4 linked regions of the Homo sapiens genome follow. The protein of the gene in region 1 interacts with the protein of each later gene in a biochemical or structural test. Each region holds a gene or a part of one and is shown in the gene's direction. Other genes may lie near its edges. The genes, in order: GSK3B, NIN, SNAI2 and LRP6.

Region 1 (7,337 bases):
ATCGATACCAAGTTTATTGAAAGTTTTTAGTATGAAAGGCTGTTGAATTTTGTTGAATGCCTTTTCTGCATCTATTGAGATAATCATGTGGTTTTTGTCATTGGTTCTGTTTATGTGATGGATTACATTTATTGATTTGCATATGTTGAACCAGCCTGTCATCCCAGGGATGAAGCCGACTTGATCGTGGTGGATAAGCTTTTTGATGTGCTGCTGGTTTCGATTTGCCAGTATTTCATTGAGGATTTTCGCATCAGTGTTCATCAGGGATATTGGTCTAAATTTCTTTTTTTTTGTTGTTGTGTCTCTGCCAGATATCATTTGGTATCAGGATGATGCTAGCCTCATAAAATGAGTTAGGGAGGATTCCCCTTTTTTCTATTGATTGGAACAGTTTCAGAAGGAATGATACCAGCTCCTCTTTGTACCTCTGGTAGAATTCGGCTGTGAATTTGTCTGGTCCTGGACTTTTTTTGGTTGGTAGGCTATTAATTATTGCCTAAATTTCAGAACCTGTTATTGATCTATTCAGAGATTCGACTTCCTGGTTTAGTCTTGGGAGGGTGTATGTGTCCAGGAATTTATCCATTTCTTGTAGATTTTCTAGTTTATTTGCGTAGAGGTGTTTATAGTATTCTCTGATAGTAGTTTGTATTTCTGTGGGATCAGTGGTGATCCCCTTTATCATTTTTTATTGCATCTATTTGATTCTTCTCTCGTTTCTTCTTTATTAGTGTTGCTAATGGTCTATTTTGTTGATCTTTCAAAAAATCAGCTCCTGGATTCATTTATTTTTTTTTTTGAAGGTTTTTTTTCTGTCTCTATCTCTTTCACTTCTGCTCTGATCTTAGTTATTTCTTGTCTTCTGCGAGGTTTTGAATTTGTTTGCTCTTGCTTGTCTAGTTCTTTTAATTGTGATGTTAGGATGTTGATTTAGATCTCTCCTGCTTTCTCTTGTGGGCATTTAGTGCTCTAAGTTTCCCTCTAAACACTGCTTTAAATGTGTTCCAGAGATTCTGGTATGTTGTGTCTTTGTTCTCATTAGTTTCAAATAACTTATTTCTTTCTGTCTTAATTTCGTTATTTACCAAGTAGTCATTCAGGAGCAGGTTGTTCAGTTTCCATGCAGTTGTGTGGTTTTGAATGAGATTCTTAATGCTGAGTTCTAATTTGATTGCACTGTGGTCTGAGAGACAGTTTGTTGTGATTTCTGTTCTTTTACATTTGCTGAGGAGTGCTTTACTTCCAATTATGTGGTCAATTTTAGAATAAGTGGGATGTGGTGCTGAGAAGAATGTATATTCTGTTTATTTGGGGTGCAGAGTTCTGTAGGTGTCTATTAGGTCCGCTTGGTCCAAAGCTGAGTTCAAGTCCTGAGTATCCTTGTTAATTTTCTGTCTCCTTGATCTGTCTAATATTGACAGTGGGGTGTTAAAGTCTCCCATTATTATTGTGTGGGAGTCTCAGTCTCTTTGTAGGTCTCCAAGGACTTGCTTTATGAATCTGGGTGCTCTTGTATTGGGTGCATATATTTTAGGATAGTTAGCTCTTCTTGTTGAATTGATCACTTTACCATTATGTAATGGCCCTCTTTGTCTCTTTTGATCTTCGTTGGTTTAAAGTCTATTTTATCAGAGACCAGGATTTTTTTTTGCTTTCCATTTGCTTGGTAGATCTTTCTCCATCCCTTTATTTTGAGCCTATGTGTGTCTTTGCACGTGAGATGGGTCTCCTGAATACAGCACATTGATGGGTCTTGAGTCTTTATCCAGTTTGCCAGCCTGTGTCTTTTAATTGGGGAATTTAGCCCATTTACATTTAAGGTTAATATTGTTATATGTGAATTTGATCCTGTCATTATGATGCTAGCTGGTTATTTTGCCCATTAATTGATGCAATTTCTTCTTAGCATCGATGGTCTTTATAATTTGGCATGTTTTTGCAATGGCTGCTACCGGTTGTTGCTATCCATGTTTAGTGCTTCCTTCAGGAGCTCTTGTAAGGCAGGCCTGGTGGTGACAAAATCTCTCAGCATTTGCTTGTCCGTAAAGGATTTTATTTCTCCTTCACTTATGAAGCTTAGTTTGGCGGGATATGAAATTCTGGGTTGAAAATTCTTTTCTTTAAGAATGTTGAATATTTTCCCCCTACTCTCTTCTGGCTTGTAGAGTTTCTGCCGAGAGATCTGCTGTTAGTCTGATGGCCTTCCCTTTGTGGGTAACCCAACCTTTCTCTGGCTGCCCTTAACATTTTTTCCTTCATTTAAACCTTGGTGAATCTGACAATTATGTGTCTTGGGGTTGCTCTTCTTGAGGAGTATCTTTGTGGTGGTCTCTGTATTTCCTGAATTTGAATGTTGGCCTGCCTTGCTATGTTGGGGAAGTTCTCCTGGTGAATATCCTTAAGAGTGGTTTCTAACTTGATTCCATTCTCCCCATCACTTTCAGGTACACCATTCAAACGTAGATTTGGTCTTTTCACATAATGCCGTATTTCTTGAAGGCTTTGTTCATTTCTTTTCACTCTTTTTTTTCTAATCTTGTCTTCTCGCTTTATTTCATTAATTTGATCTTCAGTCACTGATATCCTTTCTTCTGCTTGATTGAATCAGCTACTGAAGCTTGTGTATGCTTCACCATGTTCTCATACTCTGGTTTTCAGCTTCATCAGGTCATTTAAGCTCTTCTCTACACTGTTTATTCTAGTTAGCCATTCGTCTAACCTTTTGTCAAGGTTTTTAGCTTCCTTGCAATGGGTTAGAACATACTTCTTTAACTTGGAGAAGTTTGTTATTACTGACCTTCTGAAGCCTACTTCTGTCATCTTGTCAAACTCATTCTGCATCCAGTTTTGTTCCCTTGCTGGCGAGTAGTTGTGTTTCTTTGGAGGAGAAGAGGCGTTATGGTTTTTGGAATTTTCAACCTTTCTGCTGTGGTTTCTCCCCATCTTTGTGGTTTTATCTATCTTTGGTCTTTGATGTTGGTGGCCTACGTATGGGGTTTTGGTGTGGATGTCCTTTGTGTTGATGTTGATGCTGTTCCTTTCTGTTTGTTAGTTTTCCTTCTAACAGTCAGGTACCTTAGCTGCAGGTCTATTGGAGTTTGCTAGAGGTCCACTCCAGACCCTGTTTGCCTGGGTATCACCAGAGGAGGCTGCAGAACAGCAGATATTGCTGCCTGATCCTTCCTCTGGATGCTTCGTCCCAGAGGGGCACCCACCTGTATGAGGTGTCTGTTGGCCATTACTGGGAGATATCTCCCAGTCAGGCTACACAGGGGTCAGGGAACCACTTGGATAACAGTCTGTCCCTTATCGGGAGCTGAAACGCCATGCTGGGAGAACCATTGCTGTCTTCAGAGCTGTCAGGCAGGGACGTTTAAGTCTGCAGAAGCTGTCTGCTGCCTTTTGTTCAGATATGCCCTGCCCCCAGAGGTGGAATCTAGAGAGGCAGTAGGCCTTGCTCAGCTGTGGTGGTCTCTGCCGAGTTTGAGCTTCCCTGCTGCTTTGTTTACACTGTGAGCATAGAACTGCCTACTCAAGCCTCAGCAATGGCAAACGCCCCTCCCCCCACCAAGCTCCCACATCTTAGGTTGATCTCAGACTGCTGTGCTGGCAGCGAACAAGGCTGTGTGGGCGTGGGACCCGCCGAGTCAGGCATGGGAGGGGATCTTCTGGTCTGCCTGTTGCGAAGAGCATTGGGAAAGTGCAGTATTTGGGCAGGAGTGTATCGCTCCTCCAGGTACAGCCACTCATGCCTTCCCTTGGGTAGGAAAGGGAAATCCCCCAACCCTTTGCACTTCCCAGGTGAGGCAATGCCCCACCCTGCTTCGGCTCGCCCTCCATGGGCTGCACCTGCTGTCCAACCAGTCCCAGTGAGATGAACCAGGTACCTAAGTTGGAAATGCAGAAATCACCTGTGTTCTGCAAAGATCTTCCTGGGAGTTGTAGACCAGAACTGTTCCTATTCAGCCATCTTGGAAGCGACCATGAATGCCATCTTACAAATGAAAGTGTTAATTGGTCACAGACATTCACTGGCTTTTGTGTATATTAATACTTCTGTGAATTTAAATGGATATAAATATTGGTTATAATATTCCACTAGTGCATTTGGATATTCATTTATCTAGCAATTTATATTTCACAGAGAAAAATACTCATAAATATTATATTACTTTTCTTTTATTAGGTTAATTGGAATTCAGTTAGTATTTTAGAAAGGAAATTGTAATGGAAGAATAACAGGAAAAAATAAAAGTCCAATAAGTGAGCCTAAGGACTTATATTGTACTGAGAATTGGTTTTAGATTTGTCAGGGAAGAGAGAAGAAACAGTAGACATTTTTGTGTACGTTGAAGTCACTAAAAGAACAATGTAAAGCTCTTTTAGATCAGATACTAGGTAGCATAATACACAGAATCGATTAAGAATTCAGAAAACAAGATGGTGACTGTGGACTATCCCTAGTGAAGTAGGAGGTGGCTCTTGTGCCTGAATTGAAGAGAGCCGTTGGATTGCTACTGGGGTGAGAGAAGGCAAAAAAGGAAAGAAGAGGTCTGTGAGTGAATAGAGACCCTGGAGCCAGTGATATGCTTATATAATTGGGCCTCAGTTCAGAATGGGTTGGATTATTTAAATTTTTATATCTGTTAACCCCAAATTAACATTCTTTTCTCCACCTGAGCTTTCTCTGAGAGGTCTTCTACTTTGCTAAAAAGAAGATTCAGGGAAGCAAACACTCAAAGCCTTACTTTCCTAAATGCAGAAGGATCTGAAGAGAGAAGTTTTAAACATTTTTATTTGCACATATTTTATTTTCAAGTAAAATAAGGTCTTGAAGAAAGCCCTAAGGCCTTTTAGAATTGGATGGATAAGGTCAGACTCTTATGGGTTCACCTTTTGCTATTTGACCATGGGCAAATTTAACATTCTTCCTATTACCTATAATATGGGAACAGTACTGTCTACCTCATGGGGTTGAAACTAAGCATTGTGTCTGGTCTATAGAATGACTGAATACATGGGAGTTTAAAAAATGACTTATAATTGAAACAAGTAATTGAAGTAATTACATGTAATAAACTAAAAATAATTTGTAGTAAAGAATATAGTTTACTTTGACCAGGCGTGGTGGCTGATGCCTGTAATCCCAGCACTTTGGAGGCCAAGGAGGGCGGATCACCTGAGGTCAGGAGTTCAAGACCAGCCTGGCCAACATGGTGAAACCGCGTCTCTGCTAGAAATACAAAAATTAGCCAGACGTGGTGGCAGGTGCCTGTAATCCTAGCTACTCGGGAGGCTGAGGCAGGAGAATTGATTGAACCCGGCAGACGGAGGTTGCAGTGAGCCGAGATTGTGTGACTGCACAACAGCCTGGGTGACAAGAGTGAGACTCCATCTCAAAAAAAAAAATAAAATAAAAAATAAAGAATATAGTTTACCTTGTATATTTTGGCAGTTTTCTCTATTTAATTCCTTACAGTTCTCGTGAAAAAAAAATTTCCTTTCTTCCTTTAGGAGACAAGGACGGCAGCAAGGTGACAACAGTGGTGGCAACTCCTGGGCAGGGTCCAGACAGGCCACAAGAAGTCAGCTATACAGACACTAAAGTGATTGGAAATGGATCATTTGGTGTGGTATATCAAGCCAAACTTTGTGATTCAGGAGAACTGGTCGCCATCAAGAAAGTATTGCAGGACAAGAGATTTAAGGTAAAATGTCCAGTATTTCATATATTTTGTTGCTGTCGTAATACATATACCATAAATGATTATTTTTTTAGTTGCTTCTTTTTGCTTCAAATTTCTTCTATTGTGCGCATTTTTGTTCAGCTCAACCATTGTAGTGATTTTATTTCTAGTCATGTATTTTGTAGAGATAACATTCACTGAAGATTGCAGTATTACTTTTGTAGTCATTACAAATGACATATGTAATATATGTATTTTTTAATCCTGTGAAAGGTAAGTTAAAATTTCTTAATTTATACTATAAAAAGTGACCTGTCCTCACCGTTGTACTGTGTTGATGTAGACCAGAGGAACACTGCCTGTAGCATATAAGCATTTTATGTATTTGACTATGCTTCCTTTTTTCAAAAAATTTTTTTAATCCATGTTGCAACTTGTGTTAGTCTGTTTTTGCATCTCTATAAAGGAATACCTGATATTGAGTAATTTATAAAGAAAAGAGGTTTAATTGGCTCACAATTCTGCAAACTGTACAGGAAGTGTGGTGCAGACATCTGCTTCTAGTAATTGTCTCAGGAAACTTCTAATCATGGGCAGAAGGTGAAGGGCGAGTAGGTGCATCACATGGCAAGAGCTGAGCGAGAGCATGAAGGGGGAGATCCAGACTTTATTATTATTATTATTGTTATTACTATTTTGTAGAAACGGGGTTTTGCCATGTTGTCCAAGCTAGTCTCAATCTCCTGAGCTCAGGCAAGTCGCCTGTCTCAGCCTCCCAAAGTGCTGGGATTACAGGCGTGAGCCACCATGCCCGTCCCCAGACTCTCTTAAATAACCAGATCTCCTGTGAACTAACTGAGTGGGAACTCACTCATCAACAAGGGGATGGTGCTAACCCCATTCATGAGTGGTTGACCCCCTTGATCCAATACCTCCCACCAGGCTCTACCCCGTCTCTACTAAAAATACAAAAAATTAGCCGGGTATGGTGGCGGGCGCTTGTAGTCCCAGCTACTTGGGAGGCTGAAGTAGGAGAATGGCGTGAACCCGGGAGGCAGAGCTTGTAGTGAGCCGAGATCGCGCCACTGCACTCCAGCTTGGGGGACAGAGTGAGACTCTGTCTCAAAAAAAAAAAAAAAAAAAAAAAAGGAGATTACATTTCAACATGAGGTTTGGAAAGGGATAAACATCCAAACCATATTACAACACTATCCATTTTTCTCGTAACTTTTTTTTTTTTTTTTTGCTATCTTCCCTTTTTTTTCTTGTCCTTCTGCCTTTAGACACTAGCAATCCCAAAATTCAGTTCTCGTCATGTATTTTCATTTTCTGTACCTCATTAGGGGAGCCTATGCATGGAAGCTCAGATGTCATCTCTATGTTGTGGTATAGCAGAGAGAGTCAGAAGACACCGGGTGTAATTAAGCCTCTGTCACTATGCAGCGTTGCTCCCTTTACTACTCTTCCAACCTCTGCAACATTTTAGTGGGAGCCTCCAATGTACCAAGATCTATGGTAAACATGAAGGGATATAACAAGAAGAAGTGATCACTGTTCTGGTATAACACTAGTTATACCACATTCTAGTGTCCATCTGCTGTAAATATCTGGAACATTCTAAAGAATTTTTAAAAATTCAGTTGTTTT
Region 2 (7,337 bases), on another chromosome or scaffold:
AGAAAACAACTTCTCTGGTCCTGACCCAGGAGAGAGAGATGCTGGAGAAAACATACAAAGAACATTTGAACAGCATGGTCGTCGAGAGACAGCAGCTACTCCAAGACCTGGAAGACCTAAGAAATGTATCTGAAACCCAGCAAAGCCTGCTGTCTGACCAGATACTTGAGCTGAAGAGCAGTCACAAAAGGGAACTGAGGGAGCGTGAGGAGGTCCTGTGCCAGGCAGGGGCTTCGGAGCAGCTGGCCAGCCAGCGGCTGGAAAGACTAGAAATGGAACATGACCAGGAAAGGCAGGAAATGATGTCCAAGCTTCTAGCCATGGAGAACATTCACAAAGCGACCTGTGAGACAGCAGATCGAGAAAGAGCCGAGATGAGCACAGAAATCTCCAGACTTCAGAGTAAAATAAAGGAAATGCAGCAGGCAACATCTCCTCTCTCAATGCTTCAGAGTGGTTGCCAGGTGATAGGAGAGGAGGAGGTGGAAGGAGATGGAGCCCTGTCCCTGCTTCAGCAAGGGGAGCAGCTGTTGGAAGAAAATGGGGACGTCCTCTTAAGCCTGCAGAGAGCTCATGAACAGGCAGTGAAGGAAAATGTGAAAATGGCTACTGAAATTTCTAGATTGCAACAGAGGCTACAAAAGTTAGAGCCAGGGTTAGTAATGTCTTCTTGTTTGGATGAGCCAGCTACTGAGTTTTTTGGAAATACTGCGGAACAAACAGAGCAGTTTTTACAGCAAAACCGAACGAAGCAAGTAGAAGGTGTGACCAGGCGGCATGTCCTAAGTGACCTGGAAGATGATGAGGTCCGGGACCTGGGAAGTACAGGGACGAGCTCTGTTCAGAGACAGGAAGTCAAAATAGAGGAGTCTGAAGCTTCAGTAGAGGGTTTTTCTGAGCTTGAAAACAGTGAAGAGACCAGGACTGAATCCTGGGAGCTGAAGAATCAGATTAGTCAGCTTCAGGAACAGCTAATGATGTTATGTGCGGACTGTGATCGAGCTTCTGAAAAGAAACAGGACCTACTTTTTGATGTTTCTGTGCTAAAAAAGAAACTGAAGATGCTTGAGAGAATCCCTGAGGCTTCTCCCAAATATAAGCTGTTGTATGAAGATGTGAGCCGAGAAAATGACTGCCTTCAGGAAGAGCTGAGAATGATGGAGACACGCTACGATGAGGCACTAGAAAATAACAAAGAACTCACTGCAGAGGTTTTCAGGTTGCAGGATGAGCTGAAGAAAATGGAGGAAGTCACTGAAACATTCCTCAGCCTGGAAAAGAGTTACGATGAGGTCAAAATAGAAAATGAGGGGCTGAATGTTCTGGTTTTGAGACTTCAAGGCAAGATTGAGAAGCTTCAGGAAAGCGTGGTCCAGCGGTGTGACTGCTGCTTATGGGAAGCCAGTTTAGAGAACCTGGAAATCGAACCTGATGGAAATATACTCCAGCTCAATCAGACACTGGAAGAGTGTGTGCCCAGGGTTAGGAGTGTACATCATGTCATAGAGGAATGTAAGCAAGAAAACCAGTACCTTGAGGGGAACACACAGCTCTTGGAAAAAGTAAAAGCACATGAAATTGCCTGGTTACATGGAACAATTCAGACACATCAAGAAAGGCCAAGAGTACAGAATCAAGTTATACTGGAGGAAAACACTACTCTCCTAGGCTTTCAAGACAAACATTTTCAGCATCAGGCCACCATAGCAGAGTTAGAACTGGAGAAAACAAAGTTACAGGAGCTGACTAGGAAGTTGAAGGAGAGAGTCACTATTTTAGTTAAGCAAAAAGATGTACTTTCTCACGGAGAAAAGGAGGAAGAGCTGAAGGCAATGATGCATGACTTGCAGATCACGTGCAGTGAGATGCAGCAAAAAGTTGAACTTCTGAGGTAATGTATGTACCTTCTAGACGTCACGAATCCCACAGAGCACCTCACCAGATCTAACTTCCACTGCTTGCCGTGCCTAGAGAAACTAACCTAGTAGTCTTCACGAAGAGAGCAGTACTCTCTAGACTTCCTTCTGCTTCTGTGCCGTATTAACAAATAAAATAACCTTGTTTAGGAGGCATTCCCTTCCGCTGTAGCAAACAAGTGTTCATATGGGGTGTGAAAGTTCACAATGGCGAGTGTTTGCTGTTTAACCATGTGCATCCTCAATGTACCTCTTTAACTTTTTTCTAGCACTTATTTCATTTAGATGGATAGGGGATTTTTTTTTTTTATTTTGCTAAGTGTTACTTTCCTCATTTTGAGGAAACATGTTATATACAAATGAATGATTTTTTGTGTATTATTAACTTAGTAGATAAGAACTCACTTCTTATGCTAATATAGAAAAAATGTTCTGTCTTTATAGTTTTGTACTCATATCACTTGAAGCACATGCTGATAACCCATAAACAGTGCAAATGGTCAGGCACCATGGCTTAAATGCCTGCAATCTCAACTGTTTGGGAGGCCAAGGCAAGAGGATTTCTTGAGGCCAGGAGTTTCCAGGCAAGCCTAGGGAACATAGCAAGACTGCCTCTACAGAAAAATAAAAAAATGTTTGCTGGGCGTGGTGGTGCACACCTGTGGTCCCAGCTACTTGGGAGGCCGAGGTGGGAGGGTTGCTTGAGCTTGAGAGGTCAAAGCTGCAGTGAGCCATGATCATGCCATTGTACTCCAGACTGGGTGACAGAGTGAGACCCTGTCTCTTTTAAAAAAAAAAAAAAAAAAAAAAAAAAAAAAGAGACAAAACAAACAGTGGAAATTTATCTTAGAACATATAATTTGAGGAGCCTCCAGATTCTAATAAATATGCTTGAAAAGCAGAGATACAAGTAGAATTAATTTGAACCACTGCCCACTTGACATTGTAAAATATAATTGCATAGTCTTCTAGCAAATTTGGTTTTTCAAAAAAAAAAAAAACTTGTAAACTATTACAGGACGTCTGAAATGTCTCTGAAATAATTTAATTCTGAATGTAGTTTTTCCTCTTCTTCAGACCATTTTTAGTCCTAAAAATCAGAATATAATGAGATGAATAAAATCACAAAGTAAACAGTGTACATATTTCATTGTGGCCCTTTGATTTCAATAGAGAATTTTCTTTCCCTAGGTACCCAGGGGCCTAAAACTAAGCTAATATAGCTTTGTAACATGGCTTATGTGTATTCAGAACAGGTAGGACTTGAGACTGAGATAAATGAAGACATTTGCTCAAAGCAGTATGCTTGCCATTGAGAAAAATCAACAACCAGAATGAGCATTGAGTCTTGATTCATTTCTCCAGGCTTAAGGGTTTTTTAGCTACACTTCTCTAACATCTTTTAGTGAAATTCTTACTTCCCAAAAGAAATGTGTCAATATGTCATAACTCGATTTCCAAATACTAAGAGACTACTAATTTAGACTTTTCTTTTTAACTGGCATTGAATACTCATCCTTTTGGAAGTTACTAGAAAATATTTTCCAAAGATGCCAGATGACTGCCTTGTAACAATTTTTTTCAATCTCTGTGCTTCAGATATGAATCTGAAAAGCTTCAACAGGAAAATTCTATTTTGAGAAATGAAATTACTACTTTAAATGAAGAAGATAGCATTTCTAACCTGAAATTAGGGACATTAAATGGATCTCAGGAAGAAATGTGGTAAGACGTATACTTACATTTTCCTAAGACATTTTTGCAAAGACTAAAATTCTTTTACTTCAGCTTTTAAAGCCTAACCATTAAATTTTATTTTCATCATTCCTTTTAGGCAAAAAACGGAAACTGTAAAACAAGAAAATGCTGCAGTTCAGAAGATGGTTGAAAATTTAAAGAAACAGGTAAGGAAATACTTAATATTTCTCAATGTTTTTTGATTCCAAAATTTTCCCATTTTTTGAAATTTATAAATTTACAGCACACGGTAATGAATAGCATATAGCTAATGATGGTAAGGTTGTAAATTCTGAATTTGAAAATGGAAACTTACCTCATACTGACTCTAAACTAGCTTCCTGTTTTATGTTAAATAATGTATATATTATTCTAGGCCCTAAGTGCTTGATAAAGCTTTATCATCAGCAGAATTGAGGAGGTGATACCTCTAAAACCATACCTACGAAATATTAGCTGTAGCCCTTGTGCAGTTTCAGTTAATGTTAGCCCTTCCTTTTTCCTCACCATGATTGAAAGCAGAAAGTTAAGGGCAGAATTTCACATATACAGAATGCCAGCTAATCAGCATATCATTTCACAGAATTACATTTTATTCAGATAGCTGGTGCCATTCAGTGCTCAATTTGTATAATCTTACAACATGCAGTTATAAAAAGGGAAGGCCATTTAAGAATCTGTCTGAAGCAGTCAAAAGACAAGGACATATTGGGAAAGAGTATTTTCAGCACTTGAAATAGACAAGGTGTTAACATCCAAAATGTATTTTGGACTCTTACAAATAAATGGGAAAATCCAGTTGAAATATAGGCAATCTATATGAATGGTCAAGTCACAGAAAAAAAAAAGAATACAAAAGATGGTTAGCCTTATTAGTGATTAGAGAAGTGCAAATTCAATAAGCGTCTTTTTTTTAACCTATTGAATTAGCAAGAAGTAAAGATTGATATCTAGTATTTAAAAGGATGTGAGGAAATGACTGTGCCCATGCATTGTTGTTAGGATTATAAGGTGGTAGCACTGTGAGGAAGACATATTAGAGATATCTGTTGAAACAATAATGAATATATATCTATATACAGATCTTCTAACCCAGCAATCCTACTTCTAAAAAATAATTCTAAATACAAAATACTACCATGTATAAATGGATTTTCTAAAAGATCCATTTAAAAGAAATAATGATTTTAAAAACTTTATGTCTATCAACGTGGGAACAGATAAATGCATTATGGAATATCTTACTACATGGAATATCCTATAGCCAGTAAAAAGTAGTATGTGGTGGTTGCTGAACACACTGACTTGGAAAGAGTCTTTTTTCCTTTTGAGACGGAGTTTCGCTCTTGTTGCCCAGGCTGGAGTGCAATGGCGCAATCTCAGCTCACTGCAACTTCTGCCCCCTGGGTTCAAGCGATTCTCCTGTCTCAGCCTCCCAAATAGCTGGGATTACAGGCACATGCCACCACACCCGGCTAATTTTTGTATTTTTAGTAGAGATGGGGTTTCATCATATTGTTCAGGCTGGTCTCGAACTCCTGACCTCAGGTGATCCGCCTGTCTCGGCGTCCCAAAGTGCTGGGATTACAGGCGTGAGCCACCGTGCCCACCTGGAAAGAGTCTTTAAGTAAGTAAGTAGAAAAAGCAAGCTGTCCAAACATAAAATTTCCAAATTTTGCTAAAGAGAAGAAAAGAATCTGTATGTGTGTATGGGTTCTGTATATGCGTAGAAAATGATCTGGAGGGACACATATCCAGCTGTGGACAATGGGCTCCCCTGTAGAGTGGGGTCAGACTGAGTGTCTCACTTCTTCATACACTTGTGAATGGAATGAATTTGTAATAATGAGTGTGTATTATTTCTGTTTTGAAATATATATATATTTTAAACTTTATATAAAGAGGGAAAAGACAATTATGTCTCTAAATCTGTTTTTTTTTTTTTTTAGCACAAGTAGGGTAACAAGTTTGAAAAACTTATTTTAATTTTAATTAGATTTCAGAATTAAAAATCAAAAACCAACAATTGGATTTGGAAAATACAGAACTTAGCCAAAAGAACTCTCAAAACCAGGAAAAACTGCAAGAACTTAATCAACGTCTAACAGAAATGCTATGCCAGAAGGAAAAAGAGCCAGGAAACAGTGCATTGGAGGAACGGGAACAAGAGAAGTTTAATCTGAAAGAAGAACTGGAACGTTGTAAAGTGCAGGTATGGCCTGTAGCCACCTGACAGCTTTTTTTGAGGAAATCCCAAGAAATAGAAGAAATGTTTGTATTAAACTTCCTTAAACATAAAGCCTTAGTAATTAAAACAGTATGGTCCTGGCACATGAATAGATAAGTAGGTAAGTGGAATAGAAAGTCTAGAATTAGACCCAAATACAAATGGAAACGTAGTGTATAACCAGGGCCACTTCTCAAACCACTGGGGTAAAGATGGACTTTTAAATTAATGGTGCCTGAACAACTGAGTAGACATTCGGAAATAGATAAAATTAGACCTATGTTTCATTCCATGCACAAGGATAAACTTAATTGGATTAGGAGACTAAATATAAAAAAAAAAAACTATACAAATATTTGAAGAAAATACGGGTGAATTTGTCTTTAACCCTGGTGTAAAGAAAGGCTATTTAACTGTAACTCAAAAACCGGAGGCAATAAAAGAAAACACTGATTATATGTTAAAAAAAGTTTACTTGGCAAAAAGATACCATAAACAAAGTTAGAAGACAGCTGACAAACTAGGAGAAAATATTCACAACATATACCACAGTGAGAAGGCCTAATATCCCTGCTAGTAAAGAACTCTTAAAAATGGAGGGACATGGGACCAAAAATTTGATAGCAAAATGGGAGAAGCATACGAACAAATAAATCATATACAAAAGATAAAAATGGGCCAGGCGTGGTGTCTCACACCTGTAATCCCAGCACTTTGGGAGGCCGAGGCAGGAGAATAGCTTGAGCCTAGGAGTTCAAGACCAGCCTGGACAACATAACAAGACTCCATCTCTACAAAAAGTTTAAAAATTGGCTGGGTGTAGTGGCACACACCTGTGGTCCTAGCTACTCAGGAAGCTGAGGCAGGAGGATCCCTTGAGGCTGTACCACTACACTCTAGCCTGGGTGAGACCCTATCTCTAAATAATAAAATAAAATTATTAAAATGGCCCTCAAATCTATGGAAAAATGTTCAGAATCACTCAAAATTAGAGAAACGCAAATTAAAACAACACTTGTATAATTTCTCACCTATAAGACTGGCATCAATTTTAAAATATGACAGCATACTCTGTTGGCAAGGCTGTGGGGAAACAGACTCTTTCATGCTTTGCTGGGAGAATACAAACTGGTACCGCCTTTTTGTAGGTGAATTTGACAATACCTAACAAAATTACATATGTACCTAGCTTTTGCCCTGGAAATCTCACTTCTAGGAATCTACCCTAAAGATACCACCGCAACAATATGAAAACTCATATGCAGAGGGTTACTCACTGCAGCACTGTTTCTAATTGCAAAATGGTGGAAACAACATAGATGCTGATGTGTAGGAGAGTAGGTGAATACATGTGGGGGTTATGTCCATACCATGAAGTAGTACTGTGCAGCTGTTCAAGAAAAAGGAAGAAAAGAAATCCTTATTTATATGAAATGATTTCCAAGACATACTGTTAA
Region 3 (7,825 bases), on another chromosome or scaffold:
TGTGCATATTTCTACAAATACAAATGTGTCACTTTGAATTATGAGTACATTAATAAGTTCAACAAATTTATATAATGTCCATCTGAAATTGTGGCAATTGCAAAACAAGGTCAGGTTGATGTTCTCAGGGTTGAGTCAAATCCACCCATTTTCCACTAGGTGGCAGACCTTGTTAAAAAGTTACGGAAAAGGAAAGAAAGACAAAGAAAATAATGAGTCTTCTGAAGCTGACCAATAGATGTCTCTTTGCAACCACATATCCCTGAGCTGTCGCTTAAAATACACACAAATTCAACACTCCCTAGTCTTTCTTTTTCATTTTACAGATAATATCATCAACACTTTCCACAAGGTACACACAGAACACTGAAGAGATGAATATCTCTTACTTTTCATGATGCACTTAACCATATTCTATCCACCCAAAGGGAAATGAGATCATACAAACATAACTAGGAATAAGATTCTGAACACAAGTGACTTGGCAGAAAGCAGATTTCATTAAAATGCTGTTCCCAAGTTAAGGGTTTTCTGTTTGGAGTGATCTTAAATATTTACTGATCATATGTGATGGTACTTATTGAGCTATTGGCATTAGCACTAACTCCAGACAGACGCAGATGCCTAGTGGCTATTGGCCTGCTGAACATGACACTGGGAACACGCAGGAAATAATGGAAACTCCTAAACAGCAGAGGGACATCCTGACACCATTTTTGGCTATTATTTTCCCAACATTCAGACATGTGAGTGCTCACACAAAGGTGTGTTCATGCTCATATTTGGCCCTGTTGACATCACCAAGCACATATACTTACATATGTGGAGTGCATAGGCGAGTGCCATCCATTCCCTTTGAGAAAAGAGGTTCTCCTTATTGTGGAGCTCAGAATATATAAGCAGAATCCCATGCCCGCTCTGACAATTTTCCAAAAGGAAATTTAGGAATATTTCTTCCTAAATCCTTTTACATACAGATATGTGTATGTTAAAAACCCACAAAATGGCATCACACCCTTGTCATTCAAACTTCAAAGTTATATTTAATAAATGCTTTGTTTCTATGTAAATAGATTTTTAAAATTACTAATGTATTATAATATTCTCCAGATAGCACAGCCAAACTCATGATATTTCATCACTTCATATTTTTCAAGGGATATGAATATGCATATGAATTGAGGAGATATGAACCCCCTCCAGAGTGATCATACCACACACCAAACTTAGAAAGAGATGCCTTTCATTTTAGGAGATAGGACACAGCATAAAATGGGATTTTTCAGCCTATGCCACACTCTGGTTTCTTCTGGTGCTAGATTTACTACTCCATTTCCTAAACATGGTAGTCAATACTTGCACTGCTTTTTACACACCTAAATACCTAAATGTGTACAAATCTCCACGCAAAGTAAAGAAACCCAAGGTGCGTTCCCAAACCTCACGGATCTAATTTATTCCCCTACTTGGCAGGGCAAGAATGTGTCTTTCATGAAGAAAACTGGCTCCGGGAGAAACCCCACCCATCCAGGGAGCCTGTGGGGAAGGCTGGCCCAGATCTTTAACTTACAAAGTTTTCCACAAGTTATCTTGGTCAGCTTCTTCAGAAAACAGAGAAAATGAGAGCCTGTCAGGTACGTCACATCAAATCACATCATGGCAATTAAGGAATTAGATTATACGGGTGTCTGGGGTGCCAGGCAACCCGCACAACCCATGCCATGGAGTCTCGCCAGTGTGGCTCAAGCCTAGGAAGGATTATTTTTTAAGCCTCACTATGGCCTCCAGAGTTCCTTTTTTCTCCCTACACTACATTAAACTCTCAAGAGCCTAAGAGCAGAGCTTGTGCCTTCCTTTTGTCTTACCCGTGCCCACTGGCTTCACCCTGGCTGGGCTGTGTCCACGTGGCTCTAAGAACAAGCACCATTTATTTAATTGTTATGAAATAAATTAGGCTGATAAACCCAATCAGCCTAATTATGGAGCACCAATTTCTCACCAACCTAGGACTGAATCCTTGGATTAGCAAACCCACTTGGGTTTGCTTGTTCCATTTTTCCCCCTCAGTCATTGATTTGACTTCTATTGGATTCCAGAATGAAAGCTTTAAAATCTGGTGCAGTTGCCTCCACAAAGATTTCTGTCCCTGGGCAAGAGAAAGTCTTTTTGTCAACGACCAAAGCCAACCCCTCCAGATGAGCCCTCTGGCTGGCAGAAGGAAAGGAAACCTCTGTCTTGTCTTAGCAGAGTCCCAGCAGCTGGCCTTTGGGTGTGGCCTTGACTTCCCGGCTTGCGTTTTTACCACATGGTGCTGGCGCCACATGCCCTCCGCTGTGTCTGAGCAGAGCACCTGTTTCGTCTGACTCACGCCATCAGCGCGCAGACTCGCCCTGCTCTGACAGCGGCCCAGACCTCACACGGGCATACGTGTTACTCGCTAGCACGCGGATCTGTGTAATGACATGCCCCATGCACAGACCCGAGCCCCATCCTCTCCTCACAGTAGGTGTGGCCGCACGTCCTGACGCCGATCTGTGCAGTGCACCCTCGGATACCTGCTGATGGGGCTGGGCTGGATTATGCCTCTGTGATCCAAATGTAAGCTTTTTTCATGCATAGTGAATTATTATTAAACGTTGTAAATGGATTTTTGAATACACATTTTAGTAGATGATCTTGTGTTATAACTACCAGCAAATAAATACCAAAACATTGTCTAACACTCTTCTTTGTTGTGAATAGACTGTGTAGAGTGAAACAAGGAAATAATAGCCATGGCGATATGTGTTTTCTCAACTGTGCTATATCTGTAACAAAAATGTGTGTTTTGTGGGAAATGGAGTGAAAAGCAAGGAGGACTCCTGCTCTCATAAACCCAGGTGCCTACATCCGAACAAACCCTCACATAGAGTAGCAAGCTTAGAAAACTGCCTCTGGCTTTTACTCCAGGTTCCAGTTTGTGTGTGGAGAAATCGAATATGTATTCATATTTTCCTCTCTCCTGCAAGTACAGTTCCATTAGCATAAGGATTCCTTTGAATTATTTTCTCTGTTTGACATTTAAATTAGTGACTGTTGGAAGAAATAAGAATAATCATTGAAATTAGCTTAGGAAATCTGTGAGTGCCCCACCTCACCCTCCAAACACACATACACTCTTGTTTTCTCATTCCAAGATTAAGAAGTTATGCAACCTGACAATGCACTTTTCTCTGACAAGTCTTGACATCACCACTGTTATTTTCTTTTTCACTTTTTTCCTCCAGCACCTGTTAGAAACAAGAGTAGGGTGATCTTCATGTGAATTTGTTCTTTCCTTATTCTTTTAGCAAAAGATAGGGATAAAAGTCTGCAATGGACAGAGATGCTTTAAAATATGCTTGAAATTTTATATTTAAAATAAACCACCTGAAAGTATTTTTAGATTGAAGACCATACACAAAATAAAGGTGTTTTTGCAGTTACTAGACTGGGTTCTTAAAACTTTAATCAATCTATATTCATAATAATATCCTTCAATTTCTTTTTTAGCATTATACAGGAAACTGGTAGATACTGAGATGGATTTTAATGGCTTTATACTGATGAAAATAGCACCACATAAAAGCAGGGGAATATTAGAAATAAAAATAATTGTCTCTAAAGACCCATACAACCCTTTTTCCCATAAAAAAAAAGATGCACTGTAATACATGAAAAGATAAGATCTCTTGTCAAAAGTGTGAGAGAATGTCCGGTGGTTCCAAATGACAGTTACCTCTTGCCCCCCTTCTCTGCCAGAGTTCCTTTTTATCTTTGCAATCTTCCAGTTCTTCCGATCAGCCTGCCTTTAGAGGGCTACAAAGCATTTCTTTCAAGCCACCATAGCTAACACGGTGACATGAGTACTTAATTTGCACGCGGCCGCGCTGCCCCTGGCTTCGCGGAAGCCCTGAGTAGCGCAGCGCCCTCGCCGCACGCAAGGCTGCAGTCCCGCTCCAGGCCAGAGTCCCAGGAGAGCGTCCTCCGCGCTCACAGGCGCCTTTGTCTTCCCGCTTCCCCCTTCCTTTTTCAAAAGCCAAGAGGTAATTATTTGGTCTTTGTGCAAGGCAAACCTCTCCAGATGCCACTTCCAAATATAGGCTCTCATTAACACCAGAGGCTGGCCTGGTGTGGTGCAGGGCGGCCCTTCCTTCTCCTGGCGGACACTGTGTCCCCGCGCGCTGGCGCTGCACCACATCTGGAAGCCAGGCGGGCAGGGCAGAGACCCCGGCTCCTGCGCCCCTCCTAGCTCCCAGAGAGCGTGGATCGCGGGCGGGGCTCACCGAGCGAGGTTACCTCTCTTGAAAATACTTAAACACTTTTTTTCCTCTCCACTGAAATCTCAAAAAACAGCCCATTTTGAACCAGAATAATTTAGTCTGACAACAGATTCTTCCTCTGTTCACAGCTGTCCCAGAGGGAGGAGCTGAAATCTGAACCTCTCAGCTGTGATTGGATCTTTCTTGCAAAAGAGAGGAAAAAAAAACCCTCCCAGCCAAAACGGGCTCAGTTCGTAAAGGAGCCGGGTGACTTCAGAGGCGCCGGCCCGTCCGTCTGCCGCACCTGAGCACGGCCCCTGCCCGAGCCTGGCCCGCCGCGATGCTGTAGGGACCGCCGTGTCCTCCCGCCGGACCGTTATCCGCGCCGGGCGCCCGCCAGACCCGCTGGCAAGATGCCGCGCTCCTTCCTGGTCAAGAAGCATTTCAACGCCTCCAAAAAGCCAAACTACAGCGAACTGGACACACATACAGGTAAAAAGAGAAAAATATATCTAGAACTACGTATCTAGAGCTTTGCAAATATGAATCTACGTATTACCCTTCAAATACCATTACAAAAGAGCCAAAGATTCAACTGTTTTCCTTTTTAACAGTGTCCTGAAAGGGAGCTTACATTCTTTTGATCATTTAGGGTTCGTTTTAATTCAAAACTTTTAAAATTCTTGACTAACAAGGAACATTTCATTCAAATCTCGCAGCTTCGTTTGCTAAAGCCTGTGTATACATGCATAATGAGTATGTGAAAGATGAGCAACATAAGGATTGAATTACTGCGTTTTTCATGCACTAAGTCTCCTTTCCTTTAGAAGGCGGCTTGATGCAGGCATATCTTTGTACTCACGGTCGTAATACACCTAAATAGCCCATACGTAACATGGAAAACAACTTTTCTGTATGTTTAAAAATAATGTTGAGGCTCTCCTTCCTCAATGGGGACGGCGAAGGCACTGGCTTGGCTGCACTGTCTGACTTCAGAGCACCTATAGCTCCGTGCAGCTGTCAGCCTATGTGTGCATTAAGTACAGTAACTCCGTAGGTGCCAGGGTGGAAATGAAACATTTTACCAGTGTGTATGCCCTCCTAAATGGGTCTATCTTCTTCCTAAGAAAATCACGTGTGTGTTGCTAAATATCTTTCCAGTGTGTGTATACTTGCGTGTGGATTTATTTTTAATTATTTTTGCCTTAATCTTCTCTCCCTCCCTTTTCTTTCCCAGTGATTATTTCCCCGTATCTCTATGAGAGTTACTCCATGCCTGTCATACCACAACCAGAGATCCTCAGCTCAGGAGCATACAGCCCCATCACTGTGTGGACTACCGCTGCTCCATTCCACGCCCAGCTACCCAATGGCCTCTCTCCTCTTTCCGGATACTCCTCATCTTTGGGGCGAGTGAGTCCCCCTCCTCCATCTGACACCTCCTCCAAGGACCACAGTGGCTCAGAAAGCCCCATTAGTGATGAAGAGGAAAGACTACAGTCCAAGCTTTCAGACCCCCATGCCATTGAAGCTGAAAAGTTTCAGTGCAATTTATGCAATAAGACCTATTCAACTTTTTCTGGGCTGGCCAAACATAAGCAGCTGCACTGCGATGCCCAGTCTAGAAAATCTTTCAGCTGTAAATACTGTGACAAGGAATATGTGAGCCTGGGCGCCCTGAAGATGCATATTCGGACCCACACATTACCTTGTGTTTGCAAGATCTGCGGCAAGGCGTTTTCCAGACCCTGGTTGCTTCAAGGACACATTAGAACTCACACGGGTAAGAGAAAAACCATAGGCAGGAATGTTACTCTGAGATACAATGAAGCCCTGGGCTGGCTGTTGGATTTGCATGAAGTTGTGACATAGTGCTTTTAATGATGGACAGTCATTGATAGCTACTTCCTGACTACTCAAAAAGTTGTTAGGGCACAAAGTGCTCCATTTCTTGCTAACAACCTCTGCTCCAGGGACTGCAAACAGCATGTAGACTTTGGAAAGTAGATTCAGAAGGTTTGGTCTCAAAGATCAGTTAGAAAATCAGGAAAGATGTGCTTGAATGTGTGTTCTGTGAAACTGCCCCCAGTAATCAGCAAATACAAATGTTGCTATCTTAATCAATTGATTTGGTTAATAGATGAAGGCTTTTCCTACAGTTTTCTGTTAGTTACATTCTTGCTCTGATATTTGTCACCCGTGGGTGACTTGGATAGTTGAAACTAAATTTACTTTGCCTCTCTTGCTTTGTTTGGGGATTTTTTGCTCCTTAATTTCTTATTCGTATCACAGAATTATTCTGCAGGGTATCATGGCACTTAGACCACCTTAATCATAGTACAGAAAGAGGGAAAAGGGGAAATATTGGGAAATGTTGGGAGGTGCTCAACATTAGCTGCATCTGCTAAAGCAGAAAGCTTTAAGAAGTGAAAGTCCAAGAACTACGTAAATTATTTCTGTATGATTGGCAGCAGTAATAATATTCGTGTATGATTTTTAAATGCAATATTCAAGTTTATCTTAAAAATTCAGGTATTTTTAAAAGTGTCTATTATGAGGGATTTTAATCAGGTTTTGCTGCTTCTCATTATTTAAGCAAAATGTGATTGACTTTTGTTAACATGATTTTACTTTATGTTTCCTCTAAAAACACTGACTGTCTTTCTTTTTTTCTCCCACTCCACCCCCAGGGGAGAAGCCTTTTTCTTGCCCTCACTGCAACAGAGCATTTGCAGACAGGTCAAATCTGAGGGCTCATCTGCAGACCCATTCTGATGTAAAGAAATACCAGTGCAAAAACTGCTCCAAAACCTTCTCCAGAATGTCTCTCCTGCACAAACATGAGGAATCTGGCTGCTGTGTAGCACACTGAGTGACGCAATCAATGTTTACTCGAACAGAATGCATTTCTTCACTCCGAAGCCAAATGACAAATAAAGTCCAAAGGCATTTTCTCCTGTGCTGACCAACCAAATAATATGTATAGACACACACACATATGCACACACACACACACACACCCACAGAGAGAGAGCTGCAAGAGCATGGAATTCATGTGTTTAAAGATAATCCTTTCCATGTGAAGTTTAAAATTACTATATATTTGCTGATGGCTAGATTGAGAGAATAAAAGACAGTAACCTTTCTCTTCAAAGATAAAATGAAAAGCACATTGCATCTTTTCTTCCTAAAAAAATGCAAAGATTTACATTGCTGCCAAATCATTTCAACTGAAAAGAACAGTATTGCTTTGTAATAGAGTCTGTAATAGGATTTCCCATAGGAAGAGATCTGCCAGACGCGAACTCAGGTGCCTTAAAAAGTATTCCAAGTTTACTCCATTACATGTCGGTTGTCTGGTTGCCATTGTTGAACTAAAGCCTTTTTTTGATTACCTGTAGTGCTTTAAAGTATATTTTTAAAAGGGAGGAAAAAAATAACAAGAACAAAACACAGGAGAATGTATTAAAAGTATTTTTGTTTTGTTTTGTTTTTGCCAATTAACAGTATGTGCCTTGGGGGAGGAGGGAAAGATTAGCTTTGAA
Region 4 (7,337 bases), on another chromosome or scaffold:
CTGGAGCACACACTCCATTTTGGCTTGCAACAAGTATACTGGTGAGGGTCTGCGTGAAATCCATTCTGACATCTTCTCTCCCATGGATATACATGCCTTCAGCCAACAGAGGCAGCCAAATGGTAAGTGATCCTTGATTTTTAAATTGCAAGTTGGAACAGCTTTGTAGCACTCTAATGTCTGGCTTTAGTGAGGATCAGGAGGAGGGAGGGCATATCCAAAGATAGTTGGCGGGAATAAAAAAGAGTTAAAATCCTACTTGGGAGGCTGAGGCAAGAGAATCACTTGAACTCGGGAGGCCGAGGTTGCAGTGAGCTGAGATTGCGCCACTGCACTCCAGCCTGGGAGACAGAGAAAGACTGTGTCTCAAAAAAAAAAAAAAAAAAGTTAAAATCCCAGCACTTTGGGAGACTGAAGCAGGCAGATCATATGAGGTCAGGAGTTTGAGACCAGCCTGGCCAACCTGGTGAAACCCTGTCTCTACTAAAAAATACAAAAATTAATGGGGTGTGGTAGTGTGCACCTGTAGTCCCAGCCGCTTGGGAGGCTGAGGCAGGAGTGTCACTTGAACCCGGAAGGTGGAGATTGCAGTGAGCCGAGATTGTGCCACTGCACTCCAGCCTGGGCAACAGAGCGAGACTTTGCTCAAAAAAAAGGGAAAATGTAAAAGTATAATTCAGGTTAGGCAATAGCCTAGACCATTTTGTAGCCTGTCACTACAGACCACCTCAGCCTTTTTGAGTCAGCGCTTTTAGAGGTGGAGAAGAGAGAGATAATTTAAAAATTGAGATAGCTTATATGCTAGGCTTATACACAAATGAGTTTTTTTGTTCATATTATTTCTTTCAGTATGTAGTTGAATGTGTTGATGTGAGTGTGTTTAAAAAACAAACTCTTGGGCCAGGCGCGGTGGCTCATGCCTGTAATCCCACACTTTGGGAGGCCAAGGCAGGTGGATCACTTGAGGTCAGGAGTTTGAGACCAGCCTGGCCAACATGGTGAAACCCCGTCTCTACTAAAATAACAAAAATATTAGCCAGGCGTGGTGGCGTGTGCTTATAATCCCAGCTACTTGGGAGGCTGAGGCTGGAGAATCGCTTGAACCCGGGAGGCAGAGGTTGCAGTGAGCCAAGATCACGCCATTGCACTTTCAGCCTGGGCAACAAGAAAGAAATTATGTCTCAAAAAAAAAAAAAACAAAAAACACACACACACACAAAAACGCCTCTTCTTTTTAAATGAAAACTCTGTTAATCTAGAATATATTTGAATTTAAGTACCTCAGCTTGCTAAATAAAATACCTACTTAAACTTTTCTGTGTACCCCTCCCACCTTGTTTTCCTTAGTTTTGGTTCTGTGTTTGGTCAGCCTTTACAATGACTCGGGCTATGACTGCTGAGAACTTGTAAGAGAGGACTGGAATTAGGTTTAAAAGGAATACGAGAATGTTAAGGGTTTGGCACTTTTGTGTAAATAAATGTCTGGCATCTGTCTGAGTGTATTTCAGATTTTATTACATAGCCAAAAATGAAGAGATTTTGCAACATATGTTGCTTTATATTAGCTCTCCATTTAGGGGGAGATAATCAAATATTGAAAGTGTTATGTTGGAATCTGATGATCATGAGCCCATAAAAATGTTTTTAAGTGTATGTGTTACTCTTCTGTACAAAAGAAAATGTTCAGTCACTTGTATGAATTTTTTTATTCTTCATAGCCCTCAAAAGAGAATTTTCCCTGTTTTTTGTTTGTTTTTTGAGATAGAGTCTTGCTCTGTTGTGCGTTTATGTGATCACGGCTCCCTGCAGCCTCGAACTTCCAGGCTCAAGTGATCTTTCCACCTCAGCCTCCCTAGTAGCTGGGACTACAGGCATATGCCACCACACCTGGCTAATTTTAGTATTTTTTATAGAGGTAGGGTCTCACCATGTTGGTGACCCAGGCTGGTCTCAAACTCCTGGGCTCAAGTGATCCACGCACCTAGGCCTCCCAAAGTGCTGGGATTATAGTCACGAGCCACCGTGCCTGGCCTCTTGTTTTTCTTTTTAAATGGCATTGTTGGTCCTTTATGTTTTACTAATTTGAGAATTTGCAGTTATCTTTCATGTTGGTTACTTTTATCTTTCATGTTCCATTGGTCTCCATCTTATGTTGATTTTTTTCTATGAGTATTGTTTGGACATATCCCTTTCCATAATTTCCAAAGTTTGCTAATTAGTTTTCTCTGATTTTCATTTTCCCCTTTTTTCTGCTTATCCCTTCTATGTTAATCTTCCCAAGGCATGACTTTTCAACATAATTACTTTTCTTGGCTTTCAGTGTCCTTCACTTTAATCTATTCCCATTCTTTGTATTCATTCAGCTTTAGTTCCTATTAGTCAGTAGAAACCTTAACCTCCAGTTATACTGTTCACCTTAATATCTTACCCAGTTTATAGCCCCCAAAGTTTTATTCAGATAGCTTTACCATACTTGAAATGTCCTCTTATCTATCCTTCCTATCCTTGAAGGCTCCCGTGCTGTATACTCCACAAAGCTCTTCTTCAATTCTTTAAACCTCAGCGGTTTTTTTCCCATTTGACTCTGTACTTATTGTCTATAATGTGCAAAATAGCACTTAGTTTTATTGGTTTTGTTTGTTTGTTTGTTTGTTTTTAGTTTTGCTTTTTGTTAATTTTGTTTAACTGACTAAATTGTAACCTCTTTTAGGGCAGGGATCTCCTGCTTTACTTCTTGTGTATTCCTCTTTGGTTACAAAATACTAAGTAAATTCACACTGATTAATTCCTGTCTTTGCAGATGGTTTGATAGTCAAGCACCTGCATGACATTTGGTAATAATTTTGGCTTATCACAGTTGTTCATGTTATGGTTGTTAACCTTTGTGTACTTAGTAATCATTGATATTAATCAATGTGATTTATATTTGACAGCCACAAATCCATGTGGAATTGACAATGGGGGTTGTTCCCATTTGTGTTTGATGTCTCCAGTCAAGCCTTTTTATCAGTGTGCTTGCCCCACTGGGGTCAAACTCCTGGAGAATGGAAAAACCTGCAAAGATGGTAAGAAGATATTATCCAAAATGAAAAATTTTATAACTATTGGAATTCTTCATGATTTGTTTTCTCTATAATCAGCTCTCTAGGTTATACTGCTTTGGGAGACCAGTCACTTAATTTCACAGTCTTCACACATGGTTATAGAATAGGAGTGTTTTGTTCTGTGGCATCACTTGAATGCTATTTTATAAATTATTTTAGTGTTTTAAATAACATATTTTTGAAAAAAGTTACGTGTTGTATCTTTTCTGTCAAATCTCATAGTCATTGATATCACAGTTGATAACTATGGAAATGAGTAGTCGCATAAGGAATATATTTTTAACAGGTAGCATTTGTGAATAAAGAACCTCTGTGAAAGAAAGTATGTTTATTAAACTTTTAGCTACAAAGAATATCATGAGATATATTTTATAACAAATTATTTAAGGATGTTTTAAATTGCTTTTTAACAACAGAGAGATGCTTTCAGAGCTGGGAAAAAAAATCCATATTTAAAACAACTTCTTTTTATACTTAAGAAACACACTTTGCCTGTTCTCCTTACTCTTAATTCCCTATAGAGAGAGGGCACGTTGGAGAAAGTATACTGATTTAGGACATTTTAAGGGACTTCCAGTTTGGAAGAACACCAGTTCTTCTGTTTTTCTTCTTAATGAGAATGTTATTCTTCATTCTCACCCCTATGGATCACCATCTGGTTCTCTAGCAACCAGCAAGACCTGGTAAGAAAATTGTTGTATTTAGCTGTGGCTTCTTTATCTAACTCTGAAAAGCAGAAGCCTGTGTTTTGGAGTGTGTTAGAGTCCCTGGCAAGGGGGCCAGGGAGTCAGAGAGATGGAATTGAGTCTGTGTACAGGATGTTTGTTATGACTTGGCATTGATAAATTATCCTCATAGTAAAAGGTGAAGCTGGCTGACTCTTGGTCAAATGGTTTCCATGGCAGACAGCAATTTGGTTTCAATTTAAAACAAAAGGTTTTTGTAATGTTGCTTTTTTCTTTAAAAATGTAGCCTGACTTTAAAACAGAGGATTTATTTTAGCAATAATGGTCTATCTGCTCCCTCACAGCAGTGCAAGTGTACATATTTAACCAGTTTTGAATTTCATGTGTGCATTTGGCATGTAGTAGCCTTAAGTTAACTGTTCTGTTTTGATCACCTTGCTCAAATTAACAGCTCTATGACTTCTTTGTGAAGTTCTAGGCTGGCTCCTTTTGGTTGTTAGCCGGGGCAGTGAATTGTACAAAGTTATTCCTACTTGGTTCCTGCAGTGGCATTTGGGCTGTATTTTCTTCAAGTTGGAATTCATTTATAATTAGCTCTAGAGTGAAAGGGCTGATATTGAGAGGCTTCACTCCTCTTCTCAGTTTTTTGACTTGTAATTGCAGATTGATTCTTGAAGTTTATATGCCAGTATTTTGTTTTGGACTCATTTATTTAGCTGGGAATCTTTTCTTATTCTTTCAGTTGTCAATTTGCTTACTGTCTTTTATTAGCTTCCTATAGTTAGACGATTTTTTGCTGGTGGTTTACTTGAACAATTTAAAATGAAAAAAAGATTGAGCTCAGTATCTTCATTCTTGGTTATGTGGTTAAGTATTTGGGGCTTGGGCTTTAAACAGTTCATAAATAAACCTAATTTAAAATTCAGTGAAATAAAAATCTGAAAATCTTTATTTTTTAATACTGTTGTTAAGTATTAGTTAATATTTCTTGAGTACTTAAATGTTCAGTACTTTCCTGAGTTTTAGATTTATCTCCTTTAATCCTTACAACAACCTTACAAGGTATAGATGGGGAAACTAGGCTTAGCGAGATTAGATATTTTCCCAAAGTTTGTGTAGCTTCTTGAATCAAATTATATTGGATCCACAACTCTTAACCACTGTGTTATGTTTATCTGGTTCCTTCCCTCCATTGCAGCTGTTTGTTTCTCCATAGCTTGCTTTGTCCTCAATTCTGTGAGGTATTGCCCTGTATTTCTCTTTGTTAAGACAGTTTTACTGAGATGTAACTTACATAGCATATAAAATCCATCCATTTTTTAAATTGTACAATTCGGTGACTTTTTAGTAAATTTACAGAGTTACGCAGTTATCACCACAATCCAATTTTAGAACATTCCTATCAAGCACAAAGATTCTTGTCCTAAATTTCTTTATCTTTTTTTAAAAAATGCTTCTTGAACAAAGGATCTATATCCTACATTTCCTTCTCCTTTAATACTGAGCTACTTAGCTTCTTAGTCATTACATAGTCATTATTCATTGTACTTTTAAATAGCTGGATTAATTCCAATGAAACCATAGAATGTATCACAACTTAATTTGGAGAGTTAGCCATTAAACAGCTTGACCTCAGAGTAGACTCTTCTATTTCACTGTATTACTTTCCATTTCCACTCTAAAGAGAGTGCACATCCTTTTGTGTTAATTTATGTATATTTTATATTTATTTTTCAGTTCTTGATTCTTTATCTAGAGCAGGTAAATTTTACCTCTGGGTTTCAAAGTATTCTTCATTTCACTTTGTTGTTCTAGGTGCCACAGAATTATTGCTTTTAGCTCGAAGGACAGACTTGAGACGCATTTCTTTGGATACACCAGATTTTACAGACATTGTTCTGCAGTTAGAAGACATCCGTCATGCCATTGCCATAGATTACGATCCTGTGGAAGGCTACATCTACTGGACTGATGATGAAGTGAGGGCCATACGCCGTTCATTTATAGATGGATCTGGCAGTCAGTTTGTGGTCACTGCTCAAATTGCCCATCCTGATGGTATTGCTGTGGACTGGGTTGCACGAAATCTTTATTGGACAGACACTGGCACTGATCGAATAGAAGTGACAAGGCTCAATGGGACCATGAGGAAGATCTTGATTTCAGAGGACTTAGAGGAACCCCGGGCTATTGTGTTAGATCCCATGGTTGGGTAAGAAGCTCTACTGATAGTAAATTCTGTGTGGTGTTTCTGTTTTTCACAGGTTCCTGAAAACATTGACTAAGATAACATGACATATATATTGGTTTCCAGTAAACAGCTCTTTAATGGCTGTCTATTTTAGGATATGGTGATTAGAATACAATCTCAAGTTTAAAAATTGCTAGTTTTTTGCCTTGGATGTCTTAGATATTTTTTCTTTCTAAATTAAGTCCATGTTTGCTGACTTTGGGTGTTGTCTGCAGATTTTGCTCGGATTGCATCATTACCATGAAAAATGTGGGAAGAAATTGTTTTCAGAACTCTTTCCCTTCCCCTAGAAGCTTTAATTCCATTTTCAGTACTTTATAGTAAGAATATAGCTTACTTTTTTTTCCCTAAATACATGAATGACTTGATTTCCAAAACTTTGCCAGCCCATGCAGCTTTACTTCTAGTTTGTTGTTGTTGTTTGTTTTGTTTTGCCATGCCACCCTGATCATAGTCCAGGGAAGTACAACTTTTTACATACTCAACAATTTTGTTACTTTGAGATTTATTCTGAGGACAAGCATAGTGACAAATTACACCTCAGTATATACCAATGCCTTAGAGCCATCTAAACATCCAGGAGCCGTAAGAATCACTTAGCACTGCAGGAAGAAATAGTTATTTTGAGAATTCAGTTTGCCATCTGACTAATACTGCTGGGATAAGCCTTTTGTGTCAGAGAGATGACAAGCCATCAAGGAAAAGAGAGAGAAAGTTCATGGAAAAGGGCACACAAAATATTTAAAAAAAAAAAAAAAAAAAAGAAGTAAAACTGTAATCTCATTATTGGGAGGCATTTTCAGGATTGGCTCTAGAACACACTGATCTGAAAATTTCCCACAATCTTATATATTGCTGGGATAAATGTCTTAAACACCTCTTCATATGTTTTTTTTTTTTTCCCCTTCCTTGGCATTAACTGATGATACCAGTGTAATAGGAGGGATGGATCTCACCTTTAGAATATCTGAAAGTTACATTTTATTATCTATTTTTAGCTCATTTTTTGTATACTTCTCTAGGTACATGTATTGGACTGACTGGGGAGAAATTCCGAAAATTGAGCGAGCAGCTCTGGATGGTTCTGACCGTGTAGTATTGGTTAACACTTCTCTTGGTTGGCCAAATGGTTTAGCCTTGGATTATGATGAAGGCAAAATATACTGGGGAGATGCCAAAACAGACAAGATTGAGGTTTGTTTTTTGCTTTTTCATTTTCAAGCCACTTTTATAATGGGTTTTGAGTCGACAGTATAATGATTTGAGTACAGATATTCTTTTTTCTTAACAGTTGTC

The links.
Region 2: of the proteins of GSK3B (region 1) and NIN, one has a biochemical effect on the other in vitro, tested with the Homo sapiens proteins (2 studies listed by BioGRID and IntAct).
Region 3: of the proteins of GSK3B (region 1) and SNAI2, one has a biochemical effect on the other in vitro, tested with the Homo sapiens proteins (2 studies listed by BioGRID).
Region 4: of the proteins of GSK3B (region 1) and LRP6, one has a biochemical effect on the other in vitro, tested with the Homo sapiens proteins (2 studies listed by BioGRID, with this or other methods).

What each region holds. Positions count from the first base shown.
Region 1 is NC_000003.12:120,000,420-120,007,756, reverse strand, and holds part of GSK3B (glycogen synthase kinase-3 beta), read left to right. Parts: intron 1-5,517; coding exon 5,518-5,711; intron 5,712-7,337. UniProt on the Homo sapiens protein: Constitutively active protein kinase that acts as a negative regulator in the hormonal control of glucose homeostasis, Wnt signaling and regulation of transcription factors and microtubules, by phosphorylating and inactivating glycogen synthase (GYS1 or GYS2), EIF2B, CTNNB1/beta-catenin, APC, AXIN1, DPYSL2/CRMP2, JUN, NFATC1/NFATC, MAPT/TAU and MACF1.
Region 2 is NC_000014.9:50,751,046-50,758,382, reverse strand, and holds part of NIN (ninein), read left to right. Parts: coding exon 1-1,891; intron 1,892-3,515; coding exon 3,516-3,641; intron 3,642-3,750; coding exon 3,751-3,820; intron 3,821-5,649; coding exon 5,650-5,865; intron 5,866-7,337. UniProt on the Homo sapiens protein: Centrosomal protein required in the positioning and anchorage of the microtubule minus-end in epithelial cells. May also act as a centrosome maturation factor.
Region 3 is NC_000008.11:48,918,134-48,925,958, reverse strand, and holds the start of SNAI2 (zinc finger protein SNAI2), read left to right. Parts: upstream 1-4,529; 5' UTR 4,530-4,693; coding exon 4,694-4,772; intron 4,773-5,517; coding exon 5,518-6,063; intron 6,064-6,970; coding exon 6,971-7,152; 3' UTR 7,153-7,825. UniProt on the Homo sapiens protein: Transcriptional repressor that modulates both activator-dependent and basal transcription. Involved in the generation and migration of neural crest cells.
Region 4 is NC_000012.12:12,179,708-12,187,044, reverse strand, and holds part of LRP6 (low-density lipoprotein receptor-related protein 6 isoform b precursor), read left to right. Parts: coding exon 1-122; intron 123-2,933; coding exon 2,934-3,065; intron 3,066-5,605; coding exon 5,606-6,002; intron 6,003-7,063; coding exon 7,064-7,235; intron 7,236-7,337. UniProt on the Homo sapiens protein: Component of the Wnt-Fzd-LRP5-LRP6 complex that triggers beta-catenin signaling through inducing aggregation of receptor-ligand complexes into ribosome-sized signalosomes.